Linked DNA regions of Homo sapiens. The main gene of each other region encodes a partner of the protein of the gene in region 2 in a complex. Each region holds a gene or a part of one and is shown on either strand. Other genes may lie near its edges.

Region 1 (3,750 bases), on a different chromosome or scaffold from region 2:
TTGCTCTAATTCTTGTCGTCTCTGCTGCACCTAAGGAGAAAATAGTGAAGGGAGTGGAAGATGAGACAAACCAGAAGTTGGTATCTAACACCACTGACCCCCATCAGGGGTGAAAACCCCGTGCCTTTTGTCAATTTCCCCCGTGCACCCCATGTACTTACCTTGGAGTAGAAGTATCGGCACACAGCCTCCTGAGCCCAGGGCTGGAAGTAGAACTCAGCTCGGCGCTCCTCCTCTGGGTTACCCACCACATCAGTCATTGTCTGAGGGAAATGGAGATGCAGGGTGGAGGAAGAGAGAGGAGAAAAGGCTTGTTTCCTTCCTTCACACCCATTATTGGGTAAATTGTATCCTTCCCCAAAATGTTGAAGTCTAACCAACCCCTAGTACCTGTGAATGTGACCTTATTTGGAAATAGGGTCTCTACAGATGCTCAAGTTAAGATGAGGTCATTAGAGTACCCCCTAATATGACCGGTAGGTTCCCTTATAAAGAGGGGAAATTTAGACATGGAGACAGACACATACAGAAGGAAGACAACGTGAAGTCACACAGAGACCACCACCTACAAGCCAAGGAATGCCTGAGGTACCAGAAGCTGAGAGATGCACAGAACAGAGTCTCCCTCCCAGCTCGCGGAAGGAAGCAGTGCTGCCCACACTGATTTTGGACTTCCAGCCTCCACAACTGTGAGACAAGCCTGTTGTTTGAAACTGCCCAGTTTGTGGTAGTTTGCTACAGCAGCCTCAGCAAACTGATACAACACCCAGTCACCTCTGCAATCAACAAGTCGTTGCCTTGTTCAGGGATCTTTCCTGGCATCCCTTTTTCCTTGCTCCTCTGCTCAGCCTCTCTAACTCGTCACAGTCAGCACAGGAGGGGTGACAACGGATGAGTTCATACTCTGTGCCCATTCCTATCTTCTTGTCTGAGCTTACTGTGCTCCCCTTTCTGGGAACGTCTTCAAATCCCAAATTTTCCATGAAGCCTTCCCCAGAGATTCTAGTCTCACTGATCTCCCTTATCTGAATCATCTTATTGGTCCTGGTCAGTCTAATAATGTCTTTTTTTTTTTTTTTTTTTTTGAGATGGAGTCTCACTCTGTCAGCCAGGCTGGGAGTGCAGTGGCGCAATCTCGGCTCACTGCAGCCTCTACCTCCCAGGTTCAAGCGATTCTCCTGCCTCAGCCTCCTGGGTAGCTGGGATTACAGGCACCCGCCACCACGCCTGGCTGATTTTTTTATTTTAGTAGAGATGGGGTTTCACCATGTTGGCCAGGCTAGTCTCAAACTCCTGACCTCAGGTGATCTGCCCTCCTCAGCCTCCCAAAGTGCTGGGATTACAGGCGTGAGCCACCGCACCTGGCCTGATAATGTCTTATGTGGTTTACTACTTTGTATCATACTAGCCTAGTTTCTTTTTTTTGAGACAGAGTTTCGCTCTGTCACCCAGGCTGGAGTGCAGCGGCACGATCTTGGCTCACTGCAACCTCTGCTTCCTGGGTTCAAGCAATTCTCCTGCCTTAGCCTCCCAAGTAGCTGGGATTACAGGCGCGCACCACCACGCCCAGCTAAGTTTTTGTATTTTTAGTGGAGACGGGGTTTCGCCATGTTGGCCAGGCTGGTCTCAAACTCCTGACCTCAAGCGATCCGTCGGCCTCGGCCTCCCAAAGTGCTGGGATTACAGGTGTGAGCCACCATGCCCGGCTATACTAGCCTAGTTTCTTCAGACAGAATGTAGGCTGCTTTGAAAGCAGAGATCAGGTCTTCCACTCTGTATCCCTGACAAGATGAAGCACAGTGACAGACAAAGTAAGCACTAAATCAACACTTGATGGCTCTGCCCCCATTTCCCTGCTTAATTGCAAAATGGACCCTGGAACATGCTAAAGAAAAATCTGGCCCCTCACTCCTTCCTCTGGGTCTCCTACCAGCTGCTACATGAATAAAGCAGCTGTGCACCTCACTGACCTAAGTCCCTTCAGACCTCTCCTAGGTTCTTTACCTTGAGGTCCCTGCACTGGGACTGAAGCCAGTCATTGATGAAACCCTGAGGGTCTCTGGCAAAGCTCAGCATGAACTCCCGCTGAGTCTTCAGCTGGTTGATGGTTTCTATTGTCTCATGGATCTGAAAGGAAGAACGAAGCTCATACCATTTTCAAACTAGAAAAATGAGAAGTTAAATGGCAGGTGGTGCCTGACAACTCCACATGCCACTTCCAACCTAGTCACCATGCTGCCCACAGCTGGCACCATCATATAGAGCTCCAACTGCTCCGACCCTTGGCATTCTTTCAGCAAGTAATTTGCCCTTGTTTCTGTCTCTCTGTATACCCCATGTGAGGAAAGCTTTCCTTTTGGTCTCCACATTGCCCACTATGGGCAAAGCTACATGATGAATACTTACTCCACAGCACAAATGGGTCCAAAAGTGTTCTCAGGAAGAAAAGGACTGGCATATGGGGCTGTCTCATAAGCTCTCATCTCTGGGTTTTGTTCTCAACTCTCTTCTCATTCTGCATACTCCTCCCGGCAATTTCTTTGACTTGTATATCTTCCATTACCAGTGACAGGGTAATGAGTCCCCAGTCTGCAGCCCAGAGTCTATCTTCTATACTCCAACCAATCCAACTGCTTAAACTTGACATTAAACTCACTACCGTTTCTCCAATACCTGCTCCTCCTCCTCCCCTCTTCCCAGTCATAGTAAATACTACTGTCCACCCAAGCTAGAGACCTGGGAGGCATCATAACATTTCCTTCTCATTCATCCCTCACTCTAATAATCCAAACAGTGGCCAAATTCCTTCAATTCCACCTTGACACCTCTCAAATCTATCTACTTATCTCCACCCTCACTGTCGGGACTGTAAATTTAGGGCCTCAACACGTCTCACATGGATTACTGCACCAGCCTCCTAACTGGGCTTCCTGCCTCCAGCCCTGCCCTCTTGACAAATTATTCTCCATCCACCTTCCTGCAAGTGATCATTCTATATACAAATAGCATCAGTCCCTCCACTGGTAATGATCTCTCAACCAGCTGTCTTACACAGTCTTCGGGATGAAACATAAACCAGTTTTCCCTGAATCAAAGGTTCTTCATAATTAGGCATCTGGCTCCCTATCTAGCTTTCCTTCCCAAAACATCCCGTCCTCGGCACTCTATGCTGCATCTAGCATACTAAATGGCTCGTACTTCTTTAAGACACCAGGCTCTCTCTCTCTTCTCTGGACCTTTACATGCCCTATTCCCTCTTTCTGGAACGTCTTCTGCCTCCTATGCCCCCAGCACTACTATCCTTTTTGCCCTTTCATTAACACCCACTTTGTCCTTCAAGATTTAGTTGGGGCCGGGCGCGGTGGCTCACGCCTGTGATCCCAGCACTTTGGGAGGCCGAAGCGGGTGGATCACCTGAGGTCAGGAGTTCAAGACCAGCCTGACCAATATGGTGAAACTCCGTCTCTACTAAAAATACAAAAATTAGCCGGGCGTAGTGGCAGGTGCCTGTAGTCCCAGCTACTCAGGAGGCTGAGACAGGAGAATTGCTTGAACCCAGGAGGCGGAGGTCGTAGTGAGCCAAGATCATGCCATTGCACTCCAGCCTGAGCGGCAGAGCAAGACTCCATCTCAAAAAAAAAAAAGAAAAGATTTAGTTGGGGCATCAACTCTTCCAGCAAAGCCTCCCTTTCTCCTTCATGTTCCCAAAGCACTTTTGGCTTTATTTGCAAGGACTGCGTCTAGTAATAA
Region 2 (3,750 bases):
CCCTCCTCTGTCCAGTTCCAGCCCCTACTCTCTCCCGGGCCCAGCTCACTGTCTGCTCAGCCTGATCCGGGGAACCGAAAGGGGCCGCTGATCTGGCCACCCCAGAGTCGGAGGTGCTCAGTCCACTGGGCCTTCTGCACTAGTGGGGCAGAGGGAGGTGTCTGCCCATTGGGACACTGATCTTCAGAGAACCAGGCCTGACCCTCCAGCTCATCACAGCTGAGCTCAGCACAGGCCCCACCCCAGCCCTCCACCCAGTCAGAGCAGCTCAGTCCAGAGGATACGCGGTGAGCACAGCCGTCTTGCATAAGAAGAAGGCAGGAATGTTGTACTGCTCGAACATCAGCTCTGTCAGCTTCTCCCGCTTGGCCCGTGTGTTCCACTGTGGAGAAAGTGCAGAGGGGGAGGATTCAGGAAGGGAGAGGCACAGACCCACATCCACGCACACGCAACCCACTCACTCACACATACACTCACGGTCACACACACACATCCAAACACTTGCACACACATACACAACCTAAACACTCACACATACACTCACGGTCATACACACATGCATTCACTTGCACACACACACACATACACTCAAACACACACACATACACTCACATTCACAGACACACATAAACACACACATGCATTCACACTATACATACACTCACGGTCACACATGCAAACACACTCACAAACACACGGTCAAACACATATATACTCACATTCACACACAAACTCACACACACACATACACATATATTCACACTCACAGTCACACACACATGCATTTAAAACATTTGCACAGGCCAGACAGGGTGGCTTACGCCTATAATCCCAGCACTTTGGGAGGCCGAGGCAGGAGGATTGCTTGAACCCAGGAGTTCGAAACTAGCCTGGACAACATAGTGAGATGCTGTCTCATTAAAAAAAAAATTTAAAGTAAGGAGCTTGTGGGAATTAAAACTACATGAACAGAAATGAAAAACTCAATAGAAGGATTGGAACATAAAGTGGAGGGAATATCTTGGAAACCAAAGGAAAAAGGTAAAGAGATGGAAAATATAAGAGAAAAGGGAATTAAATTAGGGGACCAATTCAGGGGGCAACAAAATCCAATAACAGAAAATCCCAAGAGAGAAAATGGAGAGAAATAAATAATTAAATAAATAATTCTTTTTCACTGAATTGAAAGACATATGTTTTCAGAATGAAGAGACATACTAAGTGCCTAGAGCCATGAATGAAAATACACCACACTGAGGATAAAGTAAAAATTCTATAAACTTTCAGAAAGAAAAACATTACATCAGAGGATCAGAAATCAGATGGTTTCATCCTTCTAAATGGCAACGATATATGCTGGAAGAAGGACAATGGAAAAGTGCCTTCAAGATTCTGAAGAATAATGATTTCTAACCTGGCATGGGATACCTAGCTAAGCTATCAACTCAAGGTGAGACACACAAAAGTCTCAAAAAATATACTTCCCATGACCTTATTTTAAATTTTTTTTTTAGATGCTGGGCGCGGTGGCTCATGCCTGTAATCCCAGCGCTTTGGGAGGCCAAGGCGGGCAGATCACCTGAGGTCAGGAGTTTGAGACCAGCCTGGCCAACATGGTGAAACCCCGTCTCTACTAAAAATACAAAAATTAGCCAGGTGTGATGGGAGGTGCCTGTAATCCCAGCTACTTGGGATGCTGAGGCAGGAGAATCCTTGAACCCGGGAAGCGGAGGTTGCAGTGAGCCAAGATCACGCCATTGCACTCCAGCCTGGGGGACAAGAGTGACACTTCATCTCAAAAAAAAAAAAAAGTTTTTTTTTAGATTATTATTTAATTAATTATTTTTTTAAATGGAGTCTCACTCTGTCGCCCAGGCTGGAGTTCAGTGGCATGATCTAGGCTGACTGCAATCTCTGCCTCCTGGGTACAAGCAATTCTCTTGCCTCAGCCTTCCGAGTAGCTGGTACTACAAGCATGCACCACCATGGCCAGCTAATTTTTATATTTTTGGTAGAGATAAGGTATCAGTATATTGCCCAGGCTGGTCTCAAACTCCTGGACTCAAGGCCTCCCAAAGTGCTGGGATTACAGGAGTGAGCCACTGTCTCTGGCCTCTCATGACCTTTCTAAGGCAGTTACTGAAGGACCTGCTCCATGAAAACAAAGGAATAAGTCAAGAAAAGGAGTCAAGTACAGGAAACAGGACTTCTAACCAGGACAGAGGCAAAAGGATTCTACAAGATGATGGTGAAGGAAGATGCCAGCATGACAGGTCTGTCCCCTGGCAGAGGGCTACTAGTGCAAACTGGACCAGGTCAGTGGGCTCCTGAAGAAATTTCTTCAAGAAATGAAATTGATGAGAGGCCAGGTGTGGTGGCTCACGCCTGTAATCCCAGCACTTTGGGAGGCCGAGGCCGGCGGATCGCGAGGTCAGGAGATGGAGACCATCCTGGCTAACACGGTGAAACCCCGCCTCTACTAAAAATACAAAAAATTAGCCGGGCGTGGTGGTGGGTGCCTATAGTCCCAGCTACTTGGGAGGCCGAGGCAGGAGAATGGTGTGAGTCCCAGCTACTTGGGAGGCTGAGGCAGGAGAAATGGAGCTTTCAGTGAGCCGAGATCGCACCACTGCACTCCAGCCTGGGCAACAGAGTGAGACTCCATCTCAAAAAAAAAAAAAAAAATACAAAAAATTAGTCGGATGTGGTGGTGGGCACCTGTAGTCCCAGCTACTCGGGAGGCTGAGGCAGGAGAACCCAGGAGGTGGAGCTTGCAGTGAGCCGAGATCGCGCCATGGCACTCCAGCCTGGGCAACAGAGCAAGACTATGTCTCAAAAAAAAAAAAAAAAAGAAATTGATAAAATATCTAATGGAATTGACGTCTTGACAAAAGATACAATTGATGAATGATTTAGGGTTCACACTGTTAAGTAGATAGAAAACCAGACCAAATATAATCAAACACAGGGCTGGGATGGTGGCTTACGCCTGTAATCCCAGCACTTTGGGAGGCCAAGGTCGGTGGATCACGAGGTCAAGAGATCGAGACCATCCCGGCCAACATGGTGAAACCCCGTCTCTACTAAAAATACAAAAATTAGCTGGGCGTGGTGGCACGCACCTGTAGTCCCAGCTACTCAGGAGGCTGAGGCAGGAGAATCACTTGAACCCGGGAGGCGGAGCTTGCAGTGAGCTGAGATCGCACCACTGCACTCCAGCCTGGTGACAGAGCAAAACTCCGTCTCAAAAAAAAAAAAAAAAAAAAAAAAAAAAAAAAAAAAAAAAAAATTGAACACATTTTTTTTCCAGTTCTAGGAAAACAAAAAGTTGCACAAGAAAGGAAAGGTGATCATGGTGTATTGCCTGTCTCAGGCCTGATTAGCATACATAGTAATAGGAGTGTAAATATTGGGCTGAGCACAGTGACTCATGCCTGTAATCCCAGCACTTTGTTAGCTGAAGTAGAAGGATCGCTTAAGCACAGGAGTTTGAAGCCAGCCTGGGCAATATGATGAGACCCCATCTCTGCAAAAGATTCTCTTAAAATTATTTCTAATTTAAAAAGAATGTAAATACTGAATACTGATTTCTTTTAAAGTCTAAAATACAACTGGGCTGGGTGTGGTGGATCTCGCCTGTAATCCCAGCCTTTTGGGAGGCCGAGGCGGGCAGATTGCTTGAGCCCAGGAATTCAAGACCAGCCTGGACAACATGATGAAACCCTGTCTCTAAAAAAAATTTAAAAATCA

The links. The genes of interacting proteins can lie anywhere in the genome.
Region 1: ACTL6B (region 2) and SMARCD1 share a complex: the UniProt entries of both Homo sapiens proteins name them as parts of the BAF complex.

Annotation. Positions count from the first base shown.
Region 1 is NC_000012.12:50,095,227-50,098,976, reverse strand, and holds part of SMARCD1 (SWI/SNF-related matrix-associated actin-dependent regulator of chromatin subfamily D member 1), read right to left. Parts: intron 2,128-3,750; coding exon 2,005-2,127; intron 264-2,004; coding exon 162-263; intron 31-161; coding exon 1-30. UniProt on the Homo sapiens protein: Involved in transcriptional activation and repression of select genes by chromatin remodeling (alteration of DNA-nucleosome topology).
Region 2 is NC_000007.14:100,649,754-100,653,503, forward strand, and holds part of ACTL6B (actin-like protein 6B), read right to left. Parts: intron 383-3,750; coding exon 285-382; intron 1-284. UniProt on the Homo sapiens protein: Involved in transcriptional activation and repression of select genes by chromatin remodeling (alteration of DNA-nucleosome topology).